Linked DNA regions of Homo sapiens. The protein of the gene in region 6 interacts with the protein of the main gene of each other region in a biochemical or structural test. Each region holds a gene or a part of one and is shown on either strand. Other genes may lie near its edges. The genes, in order: CRB2, DGKZ, CLDN14, MAST1, MPP7, RAPGEF6 and PDZRN3.

What was found.
Region 1: the proteins of RAPGEF6 (region 6) and CRB2 interact in a test that uses a peptide from one of them, tested with the Homo sapiens proteins (one large-scale study listed by IntAct).
Region 2: the proteins of RAPGEF6 (region 6) and DGKZ interact in a test that uses a peptide from one of them, tested with the Homo sapiens proteins (one large-scale study listed by IntAct).
Region 3: the proteins of RAPGEF6 (region 6) and CLDN14 interact in a test that uses a peptide from one of them, tested with the Homo sapiens proteins (one large-scale study listed by IntAct).
Region 4: the proteins of RAPGEF6 (region 6) and MAST1 interact in a test that uses a peptide from one of them, tested with the Homo sapiens proteins (one large-scale study listed by IntAct).
Region 5: the proteins of RAPGEF6 (region 6) and MPP7 interact in a test that uses a peptide from one of them, tested with the Homo sapiens proteins (one large-scale study listed by IntAct).
Region 7: the proteins of RAPGEF6 (region 6) and PDZRN3 interact in a test that uses a peptide from one of them, tested with the Homo sapiens proteins (one large-scale study listed by IntAct).

What each region holds. Positions count from the first base shown.
Region 1 is NC_000009.12:123,354,432-123,359,181, reverse strand, and holds the start of CRB2 (protein crumbs homolog 2 precursor), read right to left. Parts: upstream 2,986-4,750; 5' UTR 2,922-2,985; coding exon 2,828-2,921; intron 1-2,827. UniProt on the Homo sapiens protein: Apical polarity protein that plays a central role during the epithelial-to-mesenchymal transition (EMT) at gastrulation, when newly specified mesodermal cells move inside the embryo.
Region 2 is NC_000011.10:46,374,963-46,379,055, reverse strand, and holds part of DGKZ (diacylglycerol kinase zeta), read right to left. Parts: coding exon 4,011-4,093; intron 3,625-4,010; coding exon 3,425-3,624; intron 3,206-3,424; coding exon 3,105-3,205; intron 2,991-3,104; coding exon 2,911-2,990; intron 2,729-2,910; coding exon 2,659-2,728; intron 2,655-2,658; exon of another isoform or gene 2,572-2,654; intron 2,533-2,571; coding exon 2,492-2,532; intron 1,984-2,491; coding exon 1,844-1,983; intron 859-1,843; coding exon 827-858; intron 600-826; coding exon 556-599; intron 66-555; coding exon 1-65. UniProt on the Homo sapiens protein: Diacylglycerol kinase that converts diacylglycerol/DAG into phosphatidic acid/phosphatidate/PA and regulates the respective levels of these two bioactive lipids.
Region 3 is NC_000021.9:36,473,522-36,477,614, forward strand, and holds part of CLDN14 (claudin-14), read right to left. Parts: exon of another isoform or gene 3,853-4,093; intron 1-3,852.
Region 4 is NC_000019.10:12,872,189-12,875,750, reverse strand, and holds the end of MAST1 (microtubule-associated serine/threonine-protein kinase 1), read right to left. Parts: intron 2,428-3,562; coding exon 2,240-2,427; intron 2,143-2,239; coding exon 881-2,142; 3' UTR 799-880; downstream 1-798. UniProt on the Homo sapiens protein: Microtubule-associated protein essential for correct brain development. Appears to link the dystrophin/utrophin network with microtubule filaments via the syntrophins. Phosphorylation of DMD or UTRN may modulate their affinities for associated proteins.
Region 5 is NC_000010.11:28,054,898-28,058,990, forward strand, and holds part of MPP7 (MAGUK p55 subfamily member 7), read right to left. Parts: intron 3,707-4,093; coding exon 3,598-3,706; intron 2,953-3,597; exon of another isoform or gene 2,749-2,952; intron 1,727-2,748; coding exon 1,583-1,726; intron 1-1,582. UniProt on the Homo sapiens protein: Acts as an important adapter that promotes epithelial cell polarity and tight junction formation via its interaction with DLG1. Involved in the assembly of protein complexes at sites of cell-cell contact.
Region 6 is NC_000005.10:131,460,233-131,464,325, forward strand, and holds part of RAPGEF6 (rap guanine nucleotide exchange factor 6), read right to left. Parts: intron 4,050-4,093; coding exon 3,809-4,049; coding exon of another isoform or gene 3,805-3,808; exon of another isoform or gene 3,381-3,804; intron 1,857-3,380; coding exon 1,473-1,856; intron 1-1,472. UniProt on the Homo sapiens protein: Guanine nucleotide exchange factor (GEF) for Rap1A, Rap2A and M-Ras GTPases. Does not interact with cAMP.
Region 7 is NC_000003.12:73,600,603-73,604,695, forward strand, and holds part of PDZRN3 (E3 ubiquitin-protein ligase PDZRN3), read right to left. Parts: intron 1,860-4,093; coding exon 1,752-1,859; intron 1-1,751. UniProt on the Homo sapiens protein: E3 ubiquitin-protein ligase. Plays an important role in regulating the surface level of MUSK on myotubes. Mediates the ubiquitination of MUSK, promoting its endocytosis and lysosomal degradation. Might contribute to terminal myogenic differentiation.

The DNA.
Region 1 (4,750 bases), on a different chromosome or scaffold from region 6:
GGCAGAATAATTTGGCATACTCTTTTTCAAAAATGTTTACCTTCTGAGGTTAAAAGACATAATTTTGATAACAGTAATTGCAACAATAGCTGTCAGGGACGGAGCACCTACCCTGTGCCTGGCACTGACCAACCCTTGAGAGTTTGGGCTCAGAGCACAGTTCCAGGGAGTTACCTCCTGAAGTGAGGGGGAGACAGAGCAGGTGGGGTTCCCCACCTGCCACCCAAACAGGCCACTTTTAACAATTTTACTATTAACTATTCATGGGCTTCCATCTAAAATTTCCCTTGAAATTGGGGGTTCCATGCCAAAACCTGGGGTGGGGAACCGCTCACTGCATTCTCTTCCAATCCTTATACCAGCGCTCGGAGTAAGCCAGTCTGTCCTCGTTTTGTAGAGACAGAGAAGAGACGTGACTTTGCCTAGGCAAGTAGCACAGTGTACTGTGAAATCCCAGCACTGGCTCTGGGGCTTCCTGGCTCTGGGACTGGCCATCTCTGGGCCTCGTTTACCTCCTCTGTAAACTAGGGGTATCAGAGCTGACTTCATAGGCTGTTGGGAGAATTAAATTAGACCTCGTTAATAATAGCACAGTGCCTGCCATGGAGTGGCTGATCTTACTCATTAACAATTCTTTACTTGAGGCAGACACCCACTGTCCAAAGGATCCTGACATTGGGTTGAATGTGTGTGGCTTTCTGCTCCATCTCTGCTTCTGTCCTGCAGGCCCCCACCCCCTTCTGGCTGGAGGAGGGGCCGGACTTGGGGCCTGGACTCACTGCCCCTTTGTCTGCTGGGCTCCCTGGGTGTTTGGGGAAGGGAGGGTGGATATGAGAGCCCAACGTGCCCCATTGTACTCCAAGATGCTTGGTCCTCTCCATGGCAACCAGCCGGGCCTTTGTGGCAAATTGGGCCCAGGATGGAGAGGCCCAGCTCAGGGCCTGGCAGGGGTGGGGAGAAAAGCCAGGGGCCCATGGCCTCCAGAAGCCCCCATCCCCTCCAGGATGGAAATTGGTTTTCAAGTGACAAAATCCCCAATCCCTCCCCTCCCGGCAGGCAGTCTAGGGTACCAGCATGCAGAAATGGTCATGCCTGCAGTGTACCCCACCAACTTTTAGGGATCCCCAGGGATGGCGCTCCCAGCACAGAAATGGCAGAGGAAAGGCTGCCCCTGGGCAACCCAGCAGGCCTGATGGGTTGAGTGTACACACCAGTGTCCAGACCCCCCACAGCCTCCATCCACTCTGTGCCTCCAGGTCCCCTGTGAGTGCACACTGAGTGTGAATGCACACATGTCCACATGTGCGTGTTGGGGTGTGCACATTGGTGTGCAGGCACATGCCATGTGTGTAGGTAGGTGCATGTGCTGGTAGATCCACATGTGTCTGTAGCACCTGTCCCTGTGGTGCTGTGTGCCCTTGGGCATGCCACACAGGTGTGCGGAGTGTGGGTGTGTGAGCATCACAGGGCAGGGGACAGAGCACCGATCCACAGACCGGGATCTCACGTGCTTTGTATGCAGAGAACAGAGAGGAGCAGCCACCCCGCCCCCCGCCACCATGCCCCACCCCTCTATGGAGCCCAAGTCGCCTGCCAGCAGAGCCCAGCTCATAAGTCCCCGTCCCTCTCTGAGCCTTGGTTTCCTTCACTGCAAAATGGGGTCCTCATCCTCCCTAGGGCCCCATAGAGAGGATAGGAAATGAAAGCTTTGTGAGTGCGGGAAACATGAGGGTCCCCAGGTGGGACTGGGAGACACTTGGCCCCCACACCCTACAGCCTGTGGAGCTCTGGGGCAGGGAGGGCTCCCCCAGCCTCAGGAGAGCCCAGGCCCTCCTTGGCTCCCTCCCCAGCCTGTGGTGGTGGGGGCAGGGGACTTCCCAGGCCCGGCCCCTGTAACTATAGTAACTAACACCAAGCGTTCCCTTGGACCCCCCAGGAGGAATTCCAGGCTCCGAGAGCTTGGACAAAAGCAAAAAGGGCTTGGCAAATGTGGTCTGGCTTCAGGGAGCCCTTTCAGATTGGCCTTGGAATGCTGGGGAGGGGGCAGCAGGGGACACACACATGTTCCCAAATCCCCAGCCACCCCACAGGGACCCAGAGCATCCCCAGCAGCCCTCAGCACAGGCAGGGCTACCGCACAAATGGAGGGGTGCGGGCAGGCACCCAGCTCCCTGAGTCTCCCTCACGCTTCTCCACTCAGTCCCGAGTTGGGGTCGGCTGTGCACATCCCACACCCCTCATGTTGAGAGCAAAGACCTAGTTCAACCCTGGACAACCTACACCCCACAGCGTGTGCTAGGACACAGCTCACCACACCCAACTCCTCGGACACAACTCACGGCTCACCCCAGACAGCTCATCCACCTCCCAACTCTAACACACCCACAACCTGTGCCCCACAACCCAGCATGCGACACAGAACAAGCTCTGGGGTGAGGCTTATGCCACCTGCAACTCCCCAAACTCAGCCCCTAGAAACCCAGAAGTCCCCCAGCCCTTTACAGGATGCAACACAGCACCTCCCAAAACACGCACCCCATCCCTCACCCGCATCAGCTCCCCCAAATCATGCCCAGCCCCCGATCCCCCAACCCCGAAACTTACAACCCCCCTCAACATGAAACAGCCCCGAGCCTCAGAACACACTCACCTCCGTGGAGCCCCACAGAGTCTGGGGGCCACAGCCGCGCACTCCTGTGCACCCCACAGCTCAGGCCTGCACCCACGCGGACCAGCCCACCCACCACCCCAGCAGCCAAGGCTTGGGGTATCTGTCTTGGGGGACAGACCCTCTCCCAGGCCCCTCCAGACATGGGCCCCAACTCACCAGCCAGGAGGGAAAGGGCAGGGGCCCAGAGCAGCAGTAGCAGGACAGAGGCCAGGGCCTGGGGGTCCGGGGTCCCAGGCCTGGCCAGCGCCATGGCAGCCCGCTCTGCGCTCTGCTCGGCTGCTGTGAGAACGGGAGGGCGGCCTGGCTGGCTCCGCACCCCCCTCGTCCCTCCAACCAGCACTAATGCTGTGGACAGAGGCCCAGCCCCTCCCTCCCCTCCCCGCCACCGCCTCCTCCTCCCACCCAGGCCTCCTGGGCTGCTCCACCTCGTGGACGTCCCTAGACATCAGCCCCAAGTCCTCAAGCCCCCTAGCCTGTGGGGCTGACCTGGTCTTGGCACCCACTGGTTTCTCCCTCCTGACCCTCTGCCCCACTCTCCTCCCACCTCTCAGGTCAGCCTCCTTGGAGAAATTTCTGTCCTTGGAGAGGGGGCTGTTCAGGACTCTCGTCTCACCAGGTGATGCCAGCTACTCCCAAGTCCTTAGTTATCCCCTCTCCTGGATCCCCCTCCCCACCTCTCCAGCCCGGGCCTCTCTCCCAAGCCCAGGCCTTCGAGTCCAGTCGCCTCCCAGACCCTGTCTCTGCTGGGAAGCTGCAGCCCCTCCCACCCAGCTCGTCCCCCCACCTGCTGCTCCCCAGTGCTCCCATCGGAGCCAAGGCACCTCCCATCGGGCAGCCCAACGCCCCCTCCCCACTCCCCCCTCCCCACACTCGGTCAGCCCCTAGCTCCTGGCCATGCCACCTTCTCAGTGTCTCCTGCTGTCCCCACCCCGTCCCACCCGACCACACACAGCTCCTCCCACCATCGGCCTCAGGATCAGCTCCCTGCAGGGCACCTCACCCCTGCACCACGGTGGTCCCTGCCTCCCTTTACCCTCTCCACCCTTCACCAGCCAAACTGAACCTTTCCCAGCTTTCTTCCACTTGACCTTGATCTCTGGCTCTGCTGTTTGCAACTCCAGCGACCTCACTGCAATCCAAAGCAGCCCATTCTACTGAAAGGCAGCTCTAACCAAGCAAGCATTGCTCTCCCCTGCCAGGAAGTCCTTCTTGTTGTCTAACCTTATAGTCTCCTGCTGCACTCGATGTTTGCTTGCTCTCCAGCTGGCCTCTTGTTGGGGTGGACAGGAGGAGCTCTTCAGGGGGACCTGGTTCAGGAAGCCAGGTCATCTCAGAGACACTACAACATAGAACAACATTCCTTTCTTCTACCACCCTCAGCCCCAGTGGGGAGAGAATCCTCTTGCTGAAGGGACTTTCCTGAAATGAGCCACCGGCCCCTGCCAATACATGCCTGTTTGTCCCTATTCAGTAACCGTGGATACAGCCCACGCAGGCCCTGGGCTCTGGGATGTGTCCCTGACACGGGAGGACACAGCCTGGAAAGACAGCAGGAGCCATTGAGGGAGGTCCAGATGAGCTAGAGGGATGGGCAAGGGTCCCCTGCAGTGCAGGGGAGGGAGCAGTGGGCACCACACAGGCCCTGGCCGACCCTCTAGCCCGGGGCAAGTGCCACAGCCCTGGGTCCCCAGGGACCAAAGGAGGGAACCCAAAAAGGCCTGGGTAGACTCCTTATCCACTGCCCCTGCCCCATCCCTGCCCTTGAGGCCTGTTCTCTCCAGGGCAGGGATTGCCCCTTGGTTTCTGGGACACTAACCTCTCTCAGTCCATCTTTAATCCCCTGCCTCTCCAATACAACAGGATCCCTCTCCCCAGGTGGGAGAAGCCCCTCTCCATGCCACAGGAAAAGCAGAGGCCTCACAGCGTAAGAGATCTGGGTTCGAGCCCAGCTCAGCCACTGATTAGCCGGTGACCTCAGCACGTGACTTCCTTCTCTGGGCCTCAGTCTCCTCACCTGTAAAATGGTGGCGTTAGTGAGCCAAGGCGACAGTGCCAGCTCTCTTTATCCAGCTTCTCAGT
Region 2 (4,093 bases), on a different chromosome or scaffold from region 6:
AGGAGCGTGCGACTCTGCTCGTCTCGGTGCATGAGGTCGCCCCCAGCTCGGTGCAGCTCCTGGAGCTGAGGGCAGGAGGCATGGCAGGGCTGGACCTCCTGGGGCCACCCCTCCTTCCCTGAGCTCACACGCTGGCCCACAGCCGGGTACACCAGCACAGGCCTGAAACGAGTGCGCTCACACATCTTACTCCTGAGTTGCCTCTGTGGGTCTCTCTGGAGCACACCGGAGGAGGGGCCTCTCACCCCACAGCCTGTGGGCTCTCTGGCAGCACTGGTGACCAAGCCCTGGAGCAGTGCTTCCTCTGACCTGCTCCTTTCTAAGCACCAGGGACAGGTGGACTGAGCTAGGAAGCCCCTACTAGGAGCCATCTATTGTGGCCTAGACAGAGATACAGTGAAGTGGAATGGGACGATCACTGGAGATCCCACAGAGGGCCAGACGATGACAGATGACAGCACCTGAGCAGGTCAGCTCTTGGCCCAACCCAGAGGCCTCGCTCCCCAGGGCCCGAGGGAGCTGCTGGGGGAAGGAACTGGAGCCTGGAGCTAGTACCTTACAGAAGTCGTTCCTCTTGGCAGCCTCAATCAGCTCTTCACCTGCACGGAATACCTGCCTGTTACTCTGCAGTCGGAGGCCTGGGCTTGGGTTGGTGCCTCAGTGGACAGGACTGTGCCGGCCAGGCATGTGTGCCCAGGGCTCCGTTGGTGCGTGAAGCTCAAAGGCTGTGTTTGTGTAAGGCTGTGTCTGGGCCCTATCCCCACCCCACTGAGCCTCCTGCCCCCAACCAGGCAGAAAGGAGGGGCCCCAGAGGGAGAGGCCTCACCTTGAGGGGGTGCAGCATCCCCTTGCAGTGACCTGCAACAGAGCATGATGTGCTGTGACCGGCTACGGCACAGGCCAGCTGGTCGCCCTCCCCAACCCCAACTGGGGGCATCTTCATCCTTTCCACAGTTTATTGAGTGCCTGCTACACACCAAGCACTATTCCAGGCACTGGGGATACAGCAGGGAAACGAGACAGAGGAAGGCCTTGCCCTCATGGAGCTTACATTCTAGTTCAGGGATACAAACAAGTCAAATAAATAAGGAGTTCTGAGAGCAGGGGTGCTCTTAAGAATTCAGAACAGGTGATGTGGCACCCCTGCAGAGGGGGTCCTGGGAGTGATCTCTCCAAGGAGGAAACAGCCAAGCTGAGATTCGAAGGGGATGGGGGTGGGGGAGCTCCGGAAAGATGGGGGAAGAGTTGGAGGCAGCGATGACAGAAGTCCAGTGGTGGCAAACACCTGATGCCTCAAAGAACCAAGAGAAGAGAGTGGGGCAGGACCATGGAGGTGAACTCAGGGAGGGGGCTGGGAGCCCAGTGCAATGACGGGGGGCCTGGGGAGAATCCACGTCCAAAGGGCTGCTGAGAAAGAAGCTTCTAGGTTGGGGAGTGGCCTGGTATGCTCTGCATTTTTAGTTGACCGTGGTATGGAGATGGGGGTTCGAGGGCACGAATGGCCACAGGGATATAAGAGCTGGGGGCCAGGGCGTGGCAGCCGGGAAGGGCTGGTGGCAGTAGGGGTGGGGAGGAGTGCTCAGGTGGTGGGTCCGGGGGCTGCCAGGACTGGCTGAAGGATGAGGTCCAGAGGAGGGAGAAGTCAGGGAGGGAACCAGGGTGGACGTGAGGCCGCTTCCCCACAGAACCACAGGGCTGAAGGCCGTCAGGTGGGCTTTGGCCAGGTTCAGGTTGACACCATTTAGTTAACTGGTGGAGGGGCTAGAAGCAGGGATTCAGAAGTCATCGGCTTACAGGTGGGGCTGAAAGCCAGGGGCTGGAGGGACGGGACACCAGGACTCACCGGGGCGTGGGTGAGCAGGGTGAGGTGGGGAGAGGGGAAGTGGGGGTTGGGAGGTCAGGCCGGGCCGATGCCCCCAGCAGCTCAGGGTCCAGGATATAAATCTCATCCTGTGCGATCTCAGTCACATAGTTGAGGTGCTCCTGTGGGGGGAGGTCAGGGCGGGAGGTCAGGGCACCTGACGGTGGGGGCCGAGGGGCAGCAAGGCTGGTAGACCTGGAGAAGCCTCTGCCATGAGCACAAACACTGAAAGGAGGTGGCCAGGCAAGGGGCCCTGCCTGTCCCTCTCCCACTCCTTCCCATTCCTGACACCTCCTCCGACTGCCCAGACTTTACCAGGTGAGCTGGCGCCTGACCAGAATGCCTTTGCTTCTGTGTCTCCCTGGATGGCTCTGGGCTTCCAGGCCCTCCTACCCACCCAGCAAGCCTTTGGTAGGTACCCCACTGCCTTTCTGGCTGGCACCGCCCTATACTCTCCAGTGTGGAGGGCAGGGCCGCACGCTGTCCATGCACACAGGCAATAGTAAAAGCTCTCAGAGGCATGAGGACAGAGGTGAGCCCATCGGGGGAGCTAACAGGGAAGGCGTCCCAGGAGAGGCGACCCTGGGGCCCGGAAGCAGCTGTGGCTGGAGCAGGCCTGCAATCGCTCACCTGGGCTCGGTCGATCCTGTAGAAGCGGCTGGCAGTGGTGGCTGTGGGAGAGAGGGCAGCTGAGGATCAGGGAGTGCCATGTCCAGGCCCAGGTCCTCTGCTGCCCCTACCTGGGATCCCCTAGGGAGGGAACACGAAACAGCTTGGCACCCTGGGAGTAGACTCACCGTCCAGGAAGCACCACTTGGGGGACAGTTTCTGGCATGTCGGGGACTTGGCTCCAGCACCATCGGGCTCCTGTTGAGAGAAGCAAAGGCCAGGCTGGGATAGAGTGGGGGCCAGGGAGGGAAGGGAACTTGGAGTAGGGGGAACCAGCACAGAGGAGGCTCCGCAGGGCGAGCTGGCTGCGGGAGGAAGAGGCCTGGCCTCACTTCCCACCACCCTCTCGGTGGGCACCTGGGGAAGCCCCCACCCCTTACCTGCTGGAGTCTCTCAATGTGGGCACGGCAGAGCTCTAGGTCACTGTCTCCTGGGACCACCACAGTGCCCAGCGGCACAGCTGGAGAACAGAGCACCTGTCAGCAGCTGGCTGCACCCCACAGCCCTGCCCAAGGGGGCCCCGGCTGCTTCAGCCCCTCCTGGCCACCCTGCCAGGCCGCCCCACCGCACTCACAGGCCTCCTTGAGCTGCTCCTTGTCGTAGTGCAGGGCCTCATAGTCGTGCATGCTGACGCGACTCACCTGGATGCGCAACTGCTCTGGCACCGGCTGCTGGCTGTCGGGCAGGGCCGGCAAGCGGGGGCTCAGCAAGGGCCCTGCCTTGGTGCCACCCTCGGCCTGGCACCAAACCACTTGCCGAGAGAAGGTCCCGCTCCACTCCCAACACCCCTGGGGCAGAGGGACAGTCAGCCCCTTTTACAGATGGGGAAATCAAGGCCCAGAGAGGGCAGGGTCTGGCCTTGGCACCCAGGGCACGTGGCAGGGTGGGACGTACTCGCTGTGCAGGGGGGCGGCGCTCCGCCGCTTGGCCTTCTGCACCATGGTGGCCTGGTTGCGCAGGGCGATGCGGATGCGTGAGGCTGCAAGCTTGCAGGGCTCGCCATCCACCTGCACCGGGATGGCCTTGGATGTGGTGAGCACCACCTCGCGACACTGCGTCAGCCGCTCGCCGTGTCCGCCCACCTGCAGCGCGGCCTGTGGGCACAGGAAGCTTGGGTCAGATGGCACCAGGGCTGGGGGCAGGGGGGTCCCAGACTCTGCTCCTTCCGAAGCAGAAACTCTAGCCAGAGAACAAAGGTGAGAGTGACCCCTGGCCAGAGGGCAGAGGGGAGGCTGAGACCCCAGGTAGGAAAGGGAAGGGACAGAGGCAATGAGGGTGACGCTCCAGTCAGAGTGGGGAGTGAAGGTATCCCGAGGCATAGTGAGGAGAGGGGGTAGGTGCCGCTCTCAAGCCAGAGGAATGAGACAAAGAAGGGAGGTGAGGGTGAACTAGGCCGCCGTGGCCCATGGAGGTGAGTATGGGTGACCCCTTCCACCTTTGGGCTGTGCTCCCAGGCACCATGGGCCCAGGGCCCACTCACCAACGACGTCATGGTGAAGCCAATGACCTCGAGGTAGCCGTCGTCATGCCGCTGGGGCTCAAAGTCGTGGTGCTCCCCAGGGT
Region 3 (4,093 bases), on a different chromosome or scaffold from region 6:
TGAAGGGCAGAAGAGAGGAATTTTCTTTTGGACTTGTTCAGTTTGAGATGTCTGTGCCTACCCACCTGGGGATAACCATGGTTGCATATGTAAGTGCAGGGTTCAGGGAGGGACTGAACTGGAGAAGTCTGTTTGTGTCACCACCGCATGGAGATGGGATTAAAATATGGGATGGAGTCTCTTAGGAGGGAACGTTAGATAGAGAGGAGCAGGGGCTCCAGGGCTGATTCTAGGAACCCTCCAACATCAGGGGAGGGATGAGGATAGAGGTAGGAAGAGGAGCCAGCCACGGGCTGTAGGAATGGGCGATAGTGAACGGTCAACCCAGAGGAGACTGGTGAGGGAGGACAGAGCTCCATGTTGGAGAGAGCAATCTACTCTGTCAAGTCAAGTAATCTGATAAATCAAGTCATCTGAGCACTGAGAAGTGGTCACTGGATTAGCAACATGAAGGAAATTGGAGACCTTGATAAGCTCAGTTTCGGCGGAGTTGATTGGAGTGGGTTCAAGAGAGAATAGGGACAGAGGGACAGGAGGGAATGAGCCCAGAGAATTCTTTCAGGAACTTGGACCCTCCAGGGGAATCAGGAAATGAGGCAACAGTTTTAGGATGGGTTCCAGGGCCCATAGACCTCAGGATATCTGTCAACTCAGCCAGGAAAAAAAGTGACATCTTCTATTTCATCTACCTCTCACTGACAATTAGCATTTCCTTCAATCCTGAATGTAGGCAGCCACCTACAGCAATATGACCAGTGCCTGTGCCTTAATCAGCAATAGAGACCATGATATTTTGCATCGCATTACAGGCGTTGCAGATACCTGCAAAGGACATTTATCACTCTAACAATTTCAAATGATACTTATAAGATGCTTGCTAGACCTCATGATGTAATGCATTAATAAGGAAGGTCGTCCATTACTAGGAACAGAATTGCACTAAAATATTTTGATAACTATGTTTTACTATAATTCACTTCCTTTATAATCCTGCATGTTATGTGTTATATTACACATTTAAAAGTATTGTGCTGAGAAGAATACATCAGCTTCGCCAGATTGCCAAAGGAATCCCAGGCAATCCCCATCCCGCCACCCAGAACAACACCGATAACAAAAAACTAAACCAAAAGAGTTAGAAACCTCTGCCAGTGGGATGTGTAGGCAAGAGAGGACCCTTGTTTTGCTGTTGTTTTGAAGATGAGAGGCATGGAAGCATGTTTGCATGCCTGAGGAAATGGTTCAGCGAGGAGGGAAACATCTGTAGGGGCAGTAGGGATCCTGTGTGCACATGGAGAGACCAGCTCTGACCAGCATGCAGAGAACTCACTCCAGAACGGGAGGGGAGGCGGGAGCAGGAGGCTGGGGGAGATGTCAGTGGGCAATAACGCATGTTCTGAGTTTGCTCCAAGTTTCTCAGGGAAATAAGAAGCAACATGATGTCTTGAGACAGGAGATGGGGGAGGAGGTGCGGGAGGCTTGAGCACAGAGGAGGAGACCATGGTCATCCAGGAGAATGACCGCAGGCCTGGACCAAGTCAAGGGGTCAAGTGCTAGTCAGTGCCGGGTGCAGGTGGGGCAAGTGGTCCTGCGGGTACCATAGACTATCACGCCGGACAGCCTTTCCCAGCACCATCAACTGCACTGCGAGGGTCCCAAGTGGACAAAGGGCTGGACTGGACCTGGTGGGGATTTTCCTAGGGGAAAATGATGAAGGCAGACAGCCAAGGGAAATATGCGTGCACACAAAGGTGTGAACATCATGGCGGGCCGTGGCGTCAAAGCTGGGATGGAGGGACATTGAGGACAATAGAGAAGGTCTGTTCATCGTGGAGAAGTCACCTGGATCAGTGGCTCTCCACCCTCCTGCTGTAGCCGCAGCCCTTGGAGAGCTTTAAAAAGATCCGGATGCCCTGGCTACCTCCAGAGATTCTGATTCGCTGACTGGGGTGGGGTCCATGCATGGGAATTTTCGAGCTCCTCTCCCCCACCCGGTGATTCTGATGTGCAGGCAGGTTTGAGAACCAATGGCTTATTTATTTCATTAAAAATTATTTTTCACTCTGTTGGCCAGGCTGGAGTGCAGTGGCACAATCACGGCTCCCTGCGGCCTTGACCTCCTGAGCTCAAGTGATCCTCCCGCCTCAGCCTTCCGAGTAGCTGGAACTTCAGGTGTGAGCCACTGCACCCAGCCCCGCTGGCTTCATTGATTTAACTTTTTTTATTTTATTTTATTTTATTTTTTTGAGACAGAGTCTTGCTCTGTCACCCAGGCTGGAGCACAGTAGGATTACAGGTGCACGCCACCACACCCAGCTAATTTTTGTATTTTTAGTAGAGACGGGGTTTCACTCCGTCTAGGCTGGTCTCAAACTCCCGACTTCAAATGATCTGCCCTCCTCGGCATCCCAAAGTGCTGGGATTACAGGCATGAGCCACCACCGTACCTGGCCTGATGTAACTTTTAAAGGTCCTATTAGGAGCTTTAAAGAGTCCAAAACGGTTTAACAGAGAGTCATAGTTCAGATGTCTGTTCTGCTGGGCCTGCCTGCTGAGTGCAGGCTCTCTTTGGGATCTCCTGAGATGGAGACAGGTGTCTCTGGCCTGTCCCTGGAATATTGTCTCACCTACCCATAAGGCTAGGCTCTCCCACTCCCTTCGCTTGAAATCCTCTTCTCCAGCTACAATCTTACCTTCCCTCCTGTGGCCCTGCACCCTTGCCTTCTGCCATCTAGAAAAAGTGGTTGGGGGGGTGGTTCTTTATTTATCTTGCTGCCTTCTGGCTCTTACCTTCCCAGAGCCCCACGGAAGCCTGTTCTTACAACCTGGGTCCTCTTCCTGGGACCCCAGCCCACTGTGGGCACTGAGCCTCCCTCATTGTTAATCTTGGCCAAGAAGTTACCCCACAGGCATTTATATTTTAATGGATGACTATTTTTTTTTTTTTTTGAGTCAGAGTCTCACTTTGTCACCCAGGCCGGAGCGCGGTGGTGCGATCTCAGCTCACTGCAACCTCCGCCTCCCAGGTTCAAGTGATTCTCCTGCCTCAGCCTCCTGAGTAGCTGGGATTACAGGCGCCTGCTACCATGTCTGGCTAATTTTTGTATTTTTAGTAGAGACCAGGTTTCACCATGTTGGTCAGGCTGGTCTCGAACTCCTGACCTCATGATCCACCCGCCTTGGACTCCCAAAGTGCTGGGATTGTAGGCGTGAGCCACTGCCCTCGGCCCATGGATGACCTTTGAAAACAAATCTCCTCCTGGCCCAGGCCCCAAAGCATACACTCACAGTGGTGAGAATGATTGGGTGAGTCTTCCAGAAAAGCCTGTGATAGTTTGATATAAAGACATTTAGAATTAATTGGGTCAGGTATGAGATTTCAGATTGCAGAAATCCTTGTGTAAGCAAAGGCCTTGCAGCTAAAGTAGTGCATGGCAGGTGTGGCTTAGCCTTTAGACATACACACAGTGGCCAGATTGTGCATTTGCTCTGAAGAGTACCAGGCCCTGTAGGTTACCTTTGCCTGCTCTCAGGACTTGCTAGATAATTTGCAGAACCCAGTGCAAAATGAAAATACAGAACCCCTTGTTCAGAAATTATTAAGAATGTCAAGATGGCGTCTGCAGAACATCAAGCCAAGTGCAAGCCTGTCTGAGCACGGGGCTCCCTGTAACTGCACAGATCATGTGCCTGTGAAGCTGTCCCTGCCTGCTATGGACATGCTGGGAACTGGACATTGGGATTTTCCCCCCTTAAAACAATGAGTGCATTGAGTTAGAATGTTGAAAGGAACAGAGACGCTCTTGCAGTGTTCTGTAGAATCGAAAATATGGTTTCATATGTTTACTTTACCTTCATTTAAGTGTAGCCCTGATGCCTCTGCGAATATCTGCCATGGAAGAGCCTTTTAAAAACAAAGCTCTTGCTGGTCTCCAGTGCCCAAGAGTGGCCGCCAGTGGAAACAGACCTGGTGTTCTAAATCTCAGTTTTTGTTTCTTTCTTCTTCCAAGAAAGCTGTAGATGAGCATGTGCACTTCCAGGCCTAGAAGGGAACAGCTGCCTCTGGGTGGCTCGCCTCTTTGCACAAGGGGCT
Region 4 (3,562 bases), on a different chromosome or scaffold from region 6:
GCCAACCTGGGTCACATAGCAAGACTCTGTTTCAAAAAAAAAGGGGGGGCGGGGGACGGGTGGGTGCAGTGGCTCACATCTGTAACCCCAGCACTTTGGGAGGCTGAGATGGGCAGATCACTTGAGGTCAGGAGTTCGAGACCAGCCTGGCCAACATGGTGAAACCCCATATCCATTAAAAATATTTAAAAATTAGCCAGACATGGTGGCACGCGTCTGTGGTCCTAGCTCCTCGGGAGGCTGAGGCAGGAGAATCGCTTGAACTCGGGAGGCAGAGGTTGTCATGAGCTGAGCTAACACCACGGCACTTCAGCCTGGGTGACAGAATGAGACTCTGTGTCAAAAAAATAAAAAATAAAAAATCTAAGGGCTCAGGAACCAGTTTGGACTTGATTTTGAATCCCAGTTCATCCCCTTCCTAGCTGTATGACCTTGATTGTGTGCCTTAACCGCTCTGTGACACAGTCTACCTGTCTGCAAAATGGGAAACATAATACCTGCCATCAGGATTGTTGAGGAGTAAATAAATGGAAATTGGTGGACGAGGCTGTTAACCTTCTCTTCAGGTGGGCGCTGGGACACAAGAGCATCGCAGCTTCAATTCTCCCCCTAAAGGTTTGGGGGCAGTTGGTGCAGAGGTGAGACCAGAAGTGGGACCACAGGAGGTGTCTATCCAAAATTCCCTCCACTCTCCATGGTAACCAGAACTGGAGTCCCACCTCCCAAAAAGCACCTGGGCATGGGGGTGGGGTCGTGTGATGTCTCGCCTTGCCTGGAGAGGAGTGAGCCCCAGAAAACTCACGCAGCACGGACGCACTTTATTTATATGTGTACATATGTATACGGAGGCTGTACAGCGCGGGGCCGATGACCCCCTTGGCTATGGTCCCGGGGGTGCGGGACTGGACACTCCTTTTTTGGTCAGGCCTGCTGGGGGCACAGCTTCAGCAGGGCACCGGGAGGTCAGCCCCACTTGAGGCTTGGTGCCTGAGCCCAAGAGGGATGCGGGTGGGACTGGGGTCACTGCACTGCTGGGTGCACTGCACTTCGCTGGGGCTAGGGAGGGTGTCTGGGGCTCCGGGGAGAGCTTTGGGGAGGCGGGCTTGGAGCGAGGACCGCTCAGCGTGGTGCGCTCCTCCACCACCTCCAACACCCAGCGCTCCCGGCCCCGGGGGGCCTCGGGCACGGAAGGCGCCAGGGGTGCGGGTTCCTGCAACCCCTTGGAGTCCGCGCCCAGAGGCTGAGGCACCACAGCCTTAGCCCCGGGCCGCGCAGGCTCTACGACAATGGGTACCAGGGGTGTGCCCGCCTCGCCAGAGCTGCTGCGCCGGCCTGTCTCGTGTTCCTGCACCGGGCTCAGCGCCGCCTTGGCCACAGCCCTGGCCATCCCGCCAGTGCCATCCTCCGTCTGCACGCTCTGATGCCGCGTGCAGCCGACGTCCCGCTCCAGGGTCCGGCCACCGGGGGTCGTCGCGCGGGGTGGGGTGCACGCCTCGGCGCCCCCCGGGGATTCCTTCTCCTTGCTCGACACTGGTGGCCTGGAGGCACCCTCGGGCAGCAACGGGTCCGCGCCCAGGCTCAAAGGTGACTCCTGTCGGCCCAGGCGGCGGACGGCGACCTGCCGGGGCGCGCCAAGGCCCTCGACTGGGGGCGTCTCACCGTCGGACTCGGCAAGGCTATGCAGCGCCAGCTCGCCATGGAAGTCCTTGCGGAAATCCGGGTGGCCCACCTCGAGGCTGTGTTTGCGCAGCGCGCCCTTCTTGTCCGCACTCAAAGAGGCTCCCAGCTTCTCGGCCGACTGCACGCGCTTGAGGAGCGGCGAGCGAGGGGGCTCGGCACTCTTGGGGCGCGGGCGCACGACGGGAGGCGATGAGTGCAGTTTGGCCGGGAAGCTCTGAGTAGTGTGCGAGCTGCCCACCGTGTGGCCCGGCAGTGGCGGCGGTGACGCCTGCGTGGGGGACGGCGTGTGTGCCAGCGGCGATAGAGGGATGTTGCCGGCCGACTTGCATCGCGCAGAGCGGTACTGGCGATGGAGCTTTGGCGACAGTCCGTGCAGCGTGCTGGGCCGAATGTGGTGCGACGCCGACGACGCAGGCGAGTTGGGCGTGCTCGAGGCTGGGGAGCTGCTCTGGGATGAGGCGCCTGCGGGAGACAGGAGGTGAAGCGAGTGAGTACAGCCCAAGCACCAGCCAGGCCACCCCGCGCTGCTCGGTCCCCGCGCAGGTGCAGGAGGTAATACCTAGGTAGGCGGAGTCAGGCGTGGAGCGGTAGCTGTGCGTGGGCGAGCGCGCCGGCAGCCCGTGCGTAGGCGAGCCCGGGAGACTATCGCTGGATGACAGCGAGCGGTTCAGCGACGACAGCGAGCGGCTAGTATGCAGCAGGTTCGACTGCTTCGTGATCTTCCGGAAGAGGGAGCTGCGCTTCTTGCTGCGGGACAGGGAGGGGGCCAAGCGTCCTTGACCTGGACGCCAGAGCTCAGGGCTCCTCCCATTTCACGGCCTCACAACGGTAACCACCCACCCCTTCTGGCCCTTCCCTCTCCAGCTACAACCCACCTATCAAGATAAAGAACTTCCTTTAGCTCAGTGCTGCTTGGCTCCTCCCACTTCAGTCCCCACCCACCCCCTTTGGCCACTCCTAGTCCAAGCTAGAAACAAGCATCCAAACAAAACCAACCTGTTCTGCCCCGCCCACCTCTCTAGCTCCTCCCTCTTCCACTACAATCCACCTATCAAGATAGAACTTCCTTTAGCTCCTCCTACTTCAGGCCCCGCCCAACTTTAGGCCACTCCCAATTCTGGCTACAAACACTCATCCAAACAAAACCATTTTTTTTTTTTTTTTTGAGACGAAGTTTCGCTCTTGTCGCCCAGGCTGGAGTGCAATGGCACGATCTCGGCTCACTGCAACCTCTACCTCCCGGGTTCAAGCGATTACCGTGCTTCAGCTTCGTGAGTAGCCTCCTGAGTAGGTGGGACTACAGGAGTGAGCCACCACTCCCAGCTAATTTTTGTATTTTTAGTAGAGATGGGGTTTCACCATGTTGGTCAGGCTGGTCTCAAACTCCTGACCTCAGGTGATCCACCCACCTCGGCCTCCCAAAGTGCTGGGATTACAGGTGTGAACCACCTCGCCCGGCCAAAAACAACCTCTTCTAGTCCTGCCCACCCCTCTAGTCCCTCCGTCTTTCACTACAACCCACCTATCAAGACAGAACTTCCCTTAACTCAGTGCTGCTTGGCTCCTCCCTCCTCCCACTTCAGGTCCTGCCCAACCTTTTGGCCACTCCCAGTCCAGGCTAGAAACACATCCAAACAAAACCAACTTGGTCCCACCTGCCTCTAGTCCCGCCTCTTCCACTACAACCCACCTATAAGAGTGGGAAGAAATGTACTTATCTCAACCCCGTCTGGCTCCTCTCACCCAAATCCCTGTACTTGTCTGGGCCAAACTCACTGATCAAAACAGAATACTAAAAACAAACAAACAAACAGAATACCCTTCTGGCCCCACCCACCTCCCACCTAGCTCCTCCTATCTATAAGGGAAAATAGGATTTCAG
Region 5 (4,093 bases), on a different chromosome or scaffold from region 6:
AACTCCTGACCTCAAGTGATCCCCACCTGCCTCGGCCTCCCAAAGTGCTGGGATTACAGGCATGAGCCACCACGCCCGGCTGATTACCACGTTCCTTCGATGTCTCATTAAAAGTGTTTCAGGAGCCTTCGTGTCTCACATTTTTAAAGCCAGGAAGTATTTTAGTTGGCTATATAACATAAATGTAAGAGAGCCAAATCCTAAGAATATGTGATCCTTTCTTATCTTCGTTGAGAAACCTTTAAAATGTCTAAATAGTACAATAAATCTTTATGTTGCAACATGCTGAAATAATTTGAGTCTGCATTTCATTGTCACATAAGATTTCACAATAACAGAAAATTTAATTTTAGTGTTGATCAAGAGCCTGAGTAACTAACATTGTATGACAGTACCTACTCAGAACGGATATGTACTGTTGGCATGTAAAAAAAGGTATTTATCAAATATACTGGGAATCAGAAATGTGATCTGTATTTTGTAACCACAATGAACAGTTCATAAATTAATATAAACTAAAGTTAATGATGAGCTAATTAAGAGGGGCAAGAAAAAAATAAGCTCTTCACATTTAATTTCTTTGCTTTTGATTTTTGGTCCAAAGGTAGAATATATTAAGATTAAGAAGAAAAACAATAAAAGGTCTTGCCAGAACCCATAATAGTCATGAATATACCACAATCATCATTTCCAATAACACTCATAGAAAATACAAATATTATTGCTGAATAATATTGGTCTACTTATCCTATACCCAAAATAGTGATTTTCTTTTGCTGTGCTAAATATAATTGTTGACACAAGGAGACAAGCAAGGCACATTATTAAATTTTTCATTTGGACTCTTAATGAGTAACAGTTACTGATGGTATTTTTAGCTTTAAAAATAAGGCTGCTCTGAAAATTAATTGGTCTAGATTTTATACAAATGTTCAGCCTACAATAGTATGAAATGTTCACATAATAGTATACAAAATAGTTTTGAGTCAATTGAATATGAAGATCCATTCACCAAAGCACAAGAAGTGTAACTGTTCAAAAGGTATGTACCTAAATACAATTCTTTCACTGATTTTTGTATCTATTATACTCTTCCCAAGTACATGCAGCTGTATATATGTTTTCATATATACAACTGTATCTTACATCTTATCTACTGCTTATATCTTATCTCCAAGCTTTTTGTGGTTGTTGTTGAGACAGGGTCTCACTCTGTCGCCCAGGCTGGAGTGTAGTGGTGTGATCTCAGCTCACTGCACTCTCAGTCTCCTGGGGTCTTGTGATCTTCCCACCTCTGCCTACCAGGCTGGAGTGTAGTAGTGTGATCTCAGCTCACTACACTCTCAGTCTCCTGGGGTCTTATGATCTTCCCACCTCCGCCTCCCAAGTAGCTGGGACTACAGGTGTCCAACCATCATGCCTGGCTAATTTCCATATTTTTTGTAGAGATGGGGTTTCACCACCTTGGCCAGGCTGGTCTTGAACTCCTGGACTCAAATGATCCTCCTGCTTCGGCCTCCCAAAGTGCTGGGATTACAGGTGTGGGCCACCACACCTGGCCCCCAAGCATCATTATACTTACTGTGAAGGGTTTTGCAGCACCTTGGTCATCTCTGCTTGAAATAATCTTTGCATTTTTTCTTGTTTCTCTCAAACGCTCTATTGATGGAGGCTTTATAAATATCACATAGGGCTTAAATTCTAGTGTCCTTAAATGCTTCACTGTCTACAAGGAAGAAAAGAAAGTTTTCTCACATTTCTCCATAGCATCATGAATTACTGAATTTTCTTTCTAGGAGAAAATTCCTCAAAATTATTCTTTAAGGTCAGTAGTCATTTCAATATATTATTATTCAATTAACTGTTGACAATTAAATGTAACAAACACTTCTGAAAAGAAGCTGGGGAATGTAACTTGGCATTTTAAAATGTTCTGAAATACATCATAATTAACATTGAACAGAAGTGACTAAAAATATCACAAAACTGGTTTTTAGATCAAATATTCCAAAGGTGTGATGAGTTAAATAACTTTCTGTCCACAAATGTCTTCCAACCATCCCTTTTAAGCCCCTTTCTGATTTCAGGCAGGAGTTCTCCTCTTTCACCCTATCCTTCAGAGTACCCTACAAGGGCAGCCTCCTGCTCTCCATGATGCCTGTCTAGATTCCTTCATCAAATCTTTGATGTTCTATACTCTATACTTCTGGGGACCTATCTACAGAGGGTGAGAGCTGAAAGTTATTATTCATGAGCTGATACTACACTGTGGGAGTCTGACAGCAACTGGACCTGGGACACCAGCAGAGAGGCTCTGCATAAGCAGGACTGTCCCATTCACTGTTGGTGCCTGATATGGTTTGGATCTGTGTCCACACCCAAATCTCATGTTGTAATGTAATCCCCACTGCTGTAGGTGCAGCCTGTGGGAGGTGACTGGATCATAGGGGCATTTTCCCGGGGTTTAACACCATCCCCCTTGGTGCTGTCATCACAATAGTCAGTTCTCGTGAGACCCTGTTGTTTAAAAGTGTGTGGCACCTCGCTCCTCTCTCTCTCTTCCTCCTGCTCTGGCCATGTGAAGTGCTCAACCCTCCTCCTTTGCTTTCCGCCATGATTGCAAGTTTCCTGAGGCCTCCCCAGAGCTGAGCAGATGCCAGCATCACGCTTCCTGTACAGTCTGCAGAGCAGTGAGCCAATTAAACCTCTTTTTTTTTTTTTTTTTTTTTTTTTTTTTTAGTAAATTACCCAGTTTCAGGTATTTCTTCAGAGCAGTGCAACAAGGGACTAACACAGTGCCCAAGTCAGGAGGCAGCCTTCCTGATTCTTGAAACACTTTTACTCCAGATTCATCTTCCTTTAGAGGTCCAAAGGGCTTCCGCAGGTCATTCTAGCATTTGGAGGTTTTGCACCCCAGGGTACAGCCATCAGTGGAAGGAGAAACCATGGTCCCTGGGGGATGAGGAAAATGCTGTGGGCTGGGGATCTGCTGGAAGATGTATGGTTTGATAGGGAATTGAATGGCCTCATCCACTGAAGTTCTCAGTTCAGAATGTTCATAATGGAGTTTCCAGGATGACAGGTGCAGACATGGCAGTTGCAATGGGGCTTTCATTCAGTACATTTCCTGCAAAATGCCCTTCAGTTCTAGTGGGGGGTTATTTGCTAGGATATATACAGAACCAAAGTCAAAGACTTGGAACCAAAATGTCCATCGTTAAAAATTATAGACACTGTTACTAATACATAACACATAAGAATGCATTATGCATGTAACAATGTGATGTATTTTTTAAAAATACAGAATATGTAGAAACATCTAAGAGTTGCTTTACTTGACAAAAACTGAATATAAATAAGAGTTACAAACACAGGTCTTGGAGCTTCCTCCACTTCTCTTTCTAATAATATTATGGGCTTTTCTTTTTCTCCACCAAAGATGTCTCCAATTATATTTAAATGCTTTTGCCATCTCAGAAAAGCCACATATATGCCAAAAGTGAGTTGACTTCATATTATTTCATACTGAAATGCTCACATGAGGTGCTGTAGATGACATGGGTCAGAAGGGTATTGAATAGCTCATTGTTTACTTACATGAGGCTGAACATCCAACAAACAAACTTTGTTTTTAGCAAGGACAGACCGAACTGAGTCTATACTTGTGCCGTAGTAGTTGTTTTTATATTCTCCATATTCAATAAACCTGTAAAAAATTAAATGCATTGGAATCATTTGTGAATTTAAAACAATTATAGGTGGCAAGATAAAATTCATAGGTAAAAGACGTTTCTGCTGAACACGTAATTTTTTTAAACTGTGTTTAATAATATAAACAGAGCCAAGTATTTCAAAATGTCAGTTTTTAAAAAATCTTTTATTATACATTTTCAAATCAGTAACACTTGCTTAAATTACACTTAAGCAGAAAAAAAGTACTTTAGTCTAGTAGGGCTCTAATGTTTTCCATCACCCCCTTTTTCTTCAGAACTAATGCAATGCAATAAAATGGTGAATAAGCCAAACAATAGAAACTACTGGAATTTCATTGCACGCTACGGAGTAACCCAGCCCAGCTTCAGAACTAGAGGCG
Region 6 (4,093 bases):
TCTTCTCTCAAATCACTCTCTTTCATTGGCTTTGATGACACTATCATAACTGTGCTACTCTGTTTCTTGTACTGATCCTCCATCTCTTTGGCTAGACTCTTTTTCCTTACCCTCACACTGAGTCATCATACTAAGGTATGGTTTTTAGACCTCTACCACTTTCTTTCTACCCTCTTTTTTATACAGAGATCTATTCTCTCAGTGTCAATCAATTTTCTTCATAGTGGACTCTAAAACTGAGCCCGTAATTTTCAAATTCTTTACTTGATGCTTCCTTTACAAACAGGTTCCATTTCTAGCCTTCCAAGTGTTTATCAGTGGCATCTTTATTCCTCTGTTTTAGACTTAGCTGTTTAAAAACTGTGATATAGGTGGTATTTTACAGATAAGAAAACCTATCTTCAGTTTTCCACTGACACATTGCTACTATATGGGAGAGGCAGGATTCAAATACAGGTGCAGCTGATTCTAAAGACCACTCTGTTAATCTCTATTCAATACTCCTAGAGTGTTCAGTTCAGTTGTAGACACTGGTTAATTTAATAAAGGCACATCCTATTACCATGACAGGGTCATGAATAAAGAGTCCCTATAAAGATTCTACTTTTTAATCTTAATCTACATGAGGAGTAGAAACAAATCATTATGAATTCTGTGGGGGATGTGTATAGGTAGGATTAGTTCAAGTGGAATTATGCTGCGATTTATAAGCACATCATGGCCTTAAAAATGGAGCTAACTACAACTCCTCTCCCTTTTAAAATTAAACTTGTTTTAAGAAGAATCCCTTTGTTGATCTACAGTGTGCTAAATAAAGATCAGAAAATAAATTACCTACAATTAACTTTTCATAATAAGTGGGAAGAAGGGAGTGGGAGAGCTCACGTAATTATCTACACTTCCTGGGCTTATGAATGTCAAAACATTTTTATTATTCTAACAGCCTAACTTGCTTGAGGAACACCACATCCAGTGAACCTCATGTAGTGCCTGGCAAACAGGAAGAGCTTACCAAATGGTTGCCATTATTATCAATGTTGTTGTTTCAAAATAGCAACTTTAGGTCAAAGTACTGATACCATACTGTGATTTTTCAGAGTCAAATCATAGTGAGGCAGGTACTTAAAAAAGCACAGTACAGAAGTCTAATGATAAAGACCAGCCACTGGGCACATATCCAAAGATGATATAATCACTCAAGGCGGGGGGTTGGAGATGAAGGGAGAGAAAGAAAAATTAGAAGGCAATCACCCACTTTCATTTACAAAAAAGAAGTAAAAGAAAGATGGAAGAAACAAAAATAGAAAAAGCCAATACCACCAAAATGGAAAATACATTAAATCTAACAACACTTCAATAAAGGCATATTAATTGAACATTTCTTTTCATAGGCATTGAATACCTAAGTAGAAAATCAGCTGCATGTAATGACAAAACCATACAGACATTTGTACCTATTTGTACCAACTTACCTTATTATTGCAAACATGGAATTGAAGTTCTTACATTCTCGACAATGAAGTGCAATTTTAATAAAATGCTTAATAATCTTCATTCGTTTGAGCTGATTTGCTTCAGTTAAAATTTCTGAGGCAACCCAGAATGTCTCTTGGTTTACAATGTCCTCAAACCTCTTCAAATGAGTATTTCCTGTTTTGGAATTTAACTTAAAAAGGTCATCGATGTACTCAGTCGGTTCAATATTACGAAACAAATCAAAGTCCCTCATTGACAGCTGGGTGGCCACCTCAATGGTACTGAGCTGCAGCATGGATAGCTGGCTTTCCTTAACTAGTTCTTGAGCATCTTCATCTGAACATAAGGTTTCTGTTTCCATGTTATTTTTTAAGTAATACCTAAATGGAAAAATTTTTTTAAATAAATGTATTCATAAATATGATTAAATAAGAGCACTTTTCCTTTTTGTCGTTGTAAAATATCATTTTACTGTTAATAACTTTTAGCCAAAAATATTAATTTACAGATAAAATGAAAAGTTAACATTTTAAATGAAAAGATTTTTGAGAAGTCTGTCTCTTATTCTACCAACTGGCATCTATTAAAGAGTAAAAATAATGTTGTTATGTCATGAACTTAATTATTTTATGAAACTATCTGTCAGATACTATTTTAGGTACTGGCCTTGCCCTCGTAAAGCTTTTATCTTACTGTTTTATCTGACAGAGGATTGGTACTATGTAAATATTTGTTTATGAATAGCATGAATTCTAATTAAGGCAAAATAAATTCCTGAATCAAGACGGTTAAAAATCTCTATTCAGAAGTTACTCCACTCACTTCCTTTTTAAATAAATTTCCAAGTGAAGCAAGAGGAATGAAATCTACAGAGGAGGGGAAACACTTCCACTAATGGTTTCTCCCTTGTTAAATACAAAACCTCATTCCAGCAAGTGGCACTTATCAGTTACCACACATTAAGACCTATATTTTGCTTTCTTCTCTTAAATCAACAATTCTACAGCACTTAAAAGTAAGAGACAGGAAACATCTTGTGCAGGGATGTTACTAAGGAAACGAGGTAATGTATCACCTGCTTTTACTTCGTTCTTTTCTAATAATCCAACTTGATTTAAGCCTAAGTTTGTATCCATCTATCCATCTATTTTTTACTGTCAAGAAACTCTTTTTTCTGCTTTTAGACTGTTCATATGCCTAAGACAATGCCATAAATAATAGTGCTGAAACTCATTATGCTATATATAATAATGTTTAACATTATAAGGTATGGTATACTTAGTAACTCATTTAATCCTTACAACATTCCCATGAGGTATATTCTACTATTACTATCCTCATTTTATGGGTGAGGAAATTCAGGTAGAGAAGCTACATATGACTTGCTCAAGGTCACATAGCCAGAGCTGGGATTTGAATGTGGGCAATCTGAATCCAGGGTCTATGCTCTTAACCACTATGTACAGCCAGCAAAACAGAGTTAACTCATTCTCATTTCACAGCAACCATGGCATGCAGTCACTGTAAGCTTTCTAGGGATCTTGTTCTACATATGAAACTGGGTTACCAAAAAGATTATTCTCAGAGTGGTTGAGTGTGGTAGCTCACACTCGTAATGCCAGCACTTTGGGAGGCTGAGGCAGGCAGATCACTTGAGGTAAGGAGTTTGAGACCAGCCTGGCCAACACGGTGAAACCTCGTCTCTACTAAAAATACAAAAATTCGCCAGGCATGGTGGCATGTGCCTGTAGTCCCAGCTACTCAGAAGGCTGAGGCAGGAGAACCGCTTGAACCTGGGAGGTGGAGGTTGCAGTGAGCTGAGATCGCGCCACTGCACTCCAGCCTGGGCGACAGAGGGAGACTCCATCTCAAAAAAAAAAAAAAAAACCAGAGTAAGGAACAAATGTACTACAGAAATAATCTAGTTTATTAAATAATTTTCAGAACACATTTTAAAATTTTTAAAATTTTCCTGCATATTCATTAAAGGAAAACTACTTAGAAAAAGAACTGTGAAAACCATGGCTTCTTTTGCCAAAGTACATACTGGCCATATTAAAAACAAATTTATAAATTAGTAGATACAGTCATTCAGATATATATGAAGATTTGTATCATTCAGCTTCCTCTATAAAAAAACAGGAACTAGATTATATCAGTGGTTCTAAGAGTTTATTTTAGCAGGAGTGACAAGATATTTTATCAAGCGTCTTCTGGAGTGAATTTAGGAGCACTAAAACATGATAATGTTTCTACTTACAATAGCTGTTTTAACAGGAAATCTTCAAAAGCACATCTACAAATAAGCACATCCACTAATAAGCTTATTCACCTTCCATTGAGTTGAATTCTATCAGCTAATTTGGAGAACTGATCTGGAAGTCTTCTCTGTTTTATGACACCCTCAGGAGTAACAGAAACTTCACAGAGAGAATATGTGTCGGATGCACCGGTCAAACCAAATTCATGAACAGCATGAAAAACTACTTCTTTAGCTGTGGTGTCTTTACTGATGATAATGTAGCAACTTTGCTGATCCACTTTGAAAACTCTTATAACTTGATCAGGGATATCTACATAAATAGAAAGATATGCTTTGTTATTTTTTAAAAAAATC
Region 7 (4,093 bases), on a different chromosome or scaffold from region 6:
TGTGACTTACCAGAAACCGTACTCAACATTTCAAATACAGATCATCCTTTGCCAAGAGAAAATCCTGCCCAGCTGTAGATTTCTCATTTGCAAAACACAAGAGCAATGAAATTCCATTACTTAGAGAAACTGGCTGTTCCACCAAACCCTTGGCAACGGAAGCTGTACTTATCTTTTTGAACAATAGTCTCAGAAAATGTATTCACTCTCAAAAAAGACAGTAAGTAACGCATTTGAGCTCTTAAGAAAGCACTCTTGCCCAAGCAAATTCCTGTTAGGGAAAATCCAGTCTCCTGACCTGGGAAGTACAAAGACTGACTCTAAACCATGCAGCAAAAAAAGCTCCAAGTTTAAGAACCCTTCAAACATTCAAAGGGGATGCAACAATATTAATAATGTCCTTAAAACAAAATCAAGTATCATTTTAGCATGTAAGTTAGCACATCACACTCCCTCCGAGGAGGGAGCCTTACACCCTAACTAGTTCAGTTTGCTTTCCCTGTGAGATTTAACTGTGTATTTTCCTGAGGATTACAAATTATCCTGAAGCATACTGCACGTTGCAGAATGTGTCCAGATGAGACTGGAAATGCAAGACTTTGTTCTCTGTCTTGCTGAGGCTCCTTTCCCCAGGAGAAGCCTGTGGCCACATTCCAGTGAGTGATGTGAACTTCACTTATGGCTTAGCTCGTGGTCCTAGCTCCCACTCAGTCCTAAATTTTGAAATAGGCCATGAAAATACTCAGGAAATACAGACATGATAAAAATGCATGTGGAAAACAAACACCCACTGGTATCGGTGCTGTTTTTCTGGTTTCTTCTATTTGCACTATATTACGGCTGTGGCCCATGGGTGAATTTCTTGTGGGGTCTGGCATATCATCGTGGATTCTCAAATTTACTTTTTGCCTAATAGGAAAGCCAATCAATTTAGCCCATATGTGTATCCATCCAAAGAGCTATGAAAATGGTCAAAACACCAGTAAAAAATTACTCATTTATATCAAACTTTGCAACAAGAGCCCATATGAGAAGGCAACAAATCATTCTCTCCCTTTTAGTGACTCAGAGCATCCTAGAACACTGCAACCCTGTTACAAAGTGTTGTCTGGTGGGGCTGAGAGATCCACTTCCCCTACATGAGTCTACAAACCTGCTGTATAAAAGTTTGAAATGATGAATGACGAACTGAAAATGGAGTAAGTGATGATATGTGAACCCTAATATCAACCTCTGCCTGCAAATCCCTGGGCAATCAGGTTGTACAACTAACAACAGGCAAAGACGACAAACTAACAGAGAGAACAATGCATTTGTAGAAATAAGTGTGTGCTGTGTGAGCTCTGAGGACATTAGAATGACTCCAAAGCTGACACAATTGTACCCTGGTAATCAATATGAACAGGGTGCACAATTTGTACAACAGGGTTCGTTCATCTGGTTCTAACATCCAACTCTTCAACGGTTTTCGCGCGAAACTGTAACTGATGCATACGAAACAGATTGAGGTCCACATGAAAAAAGCCAAATTGTGAACATTCCACTCATAATCTGGCTTTTCTACATTTAACAAAAATTTAACACCAAGGCAATCAACACTCAATCTGGTCCCACACAATGGGAAAAGTGAGACTCCCGCTCAACCATCTACCACTTTAGGCCTCCCTCCCCAGTCAAACATCTTGCTTTGAGCTAGACGAAGATGGGATGGCATTCAGCCTATTCAAAGACACTGGCCAGTATTCACATACCTCAATAATCCTGTCATGAATTTGCAGGCCTCCTTCCTTGGCTGCAGGCCCACTGTCAACTATCTTGGATACAAAGATTCCTTCACTGGATGATCCATCGTGGTTATCCTTTGGGTTAAAAAAAAAAACATGCATGAATGCTAGGCATTAAGTTGAGCATGAAAGTAAAGCTTGCACTCTTAAAACAGTAATTGACTCTTGCTGTGTCAAGAGTGGCAATAGGGTAAAAGGTATTTGTTTCTCCTAATTTCTGTTTTAAACTAAAATACACACACAGTAAAATATTTCAAACCACACCAAAGGACATAAAATGATGCATCCCTGCCATCTCCAACCCATTGTCCTTCTTCCCCCGCCTATGGTAGCTATTTGACTTTATGCATCCTTTTGAAAACATTTTAACACATCATATTCCTAAATATGCATTTGTTCCTTTTTGCATACAAATGTGATTATGCTAGTCTGACTCTTATGTCCTTGCCTCTCTCATTTAACTCTAAAAATCATGAAGATCTTCTGCTACCAATTCGTGTCTGCCTTACTTCTTAAAGTGACTGAACAGTATCCAACATGAGGCTAATAAACACTGTTTTCATTTGCTGTGATTAAACAATGCTGTGATAATACTCTCCTACTTGTATTTTAAATTATCTTTGCTATTATAGTTCTAGGGCAAATCCCTAACAATGGAACTGTTGGGTAAAAGGATATGTACATTTCAAAGATATTGCCAAATGGCTTTTCAGAGAGTTTATACTTATTGTTCATTAGACAGAGTGTTTTCCCACATCCTCATTTGCACAGAATGTTATTAAACTTGTAAATATCTAATAATTTGACTGTGAAAACAGATATTTTGTTTTTGTTCCGATGCACTACCATCACTCTAGTCCTAATAAATTCTGATCTCTGACCTCCTTGAATCTCTTTAGATCTTTGAATTAAATGTCAGAACTAAAACTTTCTGGGAACGAAGACAGCTCACTGTTCAAACTCCTTCCTTTCCTTAAAATCAAAAGGCTCCAACAAGCTCATAAAAAACCCTCACAGCTTGTTCACGAACTTCTTTTCAAACAGCACTGCAATGAATTCTCTCCAAGTGTACGGATTAAATTTCTAGTGATTAACAGATGGATTTATAAATTAAATGGCACAAGCATGTGATATTTCCAAACAAAATCATTTGAAATGTAAGCTCAGAATGTTCCACAAAAACTCCAAAATCTAGTCATGGTAAATTCCTTGCCGTATGTCATTAGAAGATTTATTTCAATAACAATTACTCTGAATACAAATACATAAAAATTCCATTTGTTAAAAATAACTCTTCAAATAAAACATTTTCCACTTTAAACAGCAAAAAACAAAACCAAAAAACAATCCCTATATTCTAAAGGGGGAAGGAAACGACTTCAAGTGTGATTCAGTCTACCCCTTCAAATGCAACAGCAATAACTAAGCTTGGAAAAATGTACATTTCTCAGTCCTTCTCTCCTTCCTTCTTCACACTTCCCCAAACACACACACACACATACACACACACACACACACACACAGAGTAAAATGTTATATGATTCACCAAAAGAAACCAAAATCACAACCTAAAATGAGCATTAAGTGTTTTTCCTGACATTTATCCCCACATGACAAAGATATGTCTCTAACTGGCATCTGGATTCCATCAACGCTCTTCCAAGAGAAGGGTCAGGGAGCCTGTGGGTGCTGTGTAGGATCATCTATCCTCAAAAGGCATCCCTGCCTAGCATCACAGTGCTCTGCACAGACCTCCTGCACACTAACCCTTTACCATCTGAATACCTCTGTGCCTCCTTCCTCTCTCACGGCAGCCTTACTGAGGCACTAGTCTGAACACATCCGTGTAGCTCCCTACATGCACACCTGAAATATATGTATAAAGCTGCAAAGCAGCTTCCTTTACTGAGCACAAACTAGGTACCAGGTACATAGTGAGTGCTCTATGTGCACTGTTTAATCCTCACAATAACCACAAGTGGTAAGTACTATTATTACCCATTCCACAGGTGAAAAACCTGAGACTGAGAGAGGTTCGGAAACTCATCCAAGGTCACACAGCTAAAAAGTGGTATGGCTCAGTTTCAAACTGAGGCGAAGCGGATCCTCTTGCACATTACATGCTCTGTGTGCAATATTGTCTCCCACTGAGAAAACTCAAAACACACAGGAATTCAGAAGTCCAACATTTCAGGCTATGGAATATTCCACTAGATGAACTTGAAGAGTCTCAATGGACCACAAAAGATTTATGAACAAGCTTGAGTTCCCTAAGAGGTGATGTCAATATATCAAATGAAAAGAGATCT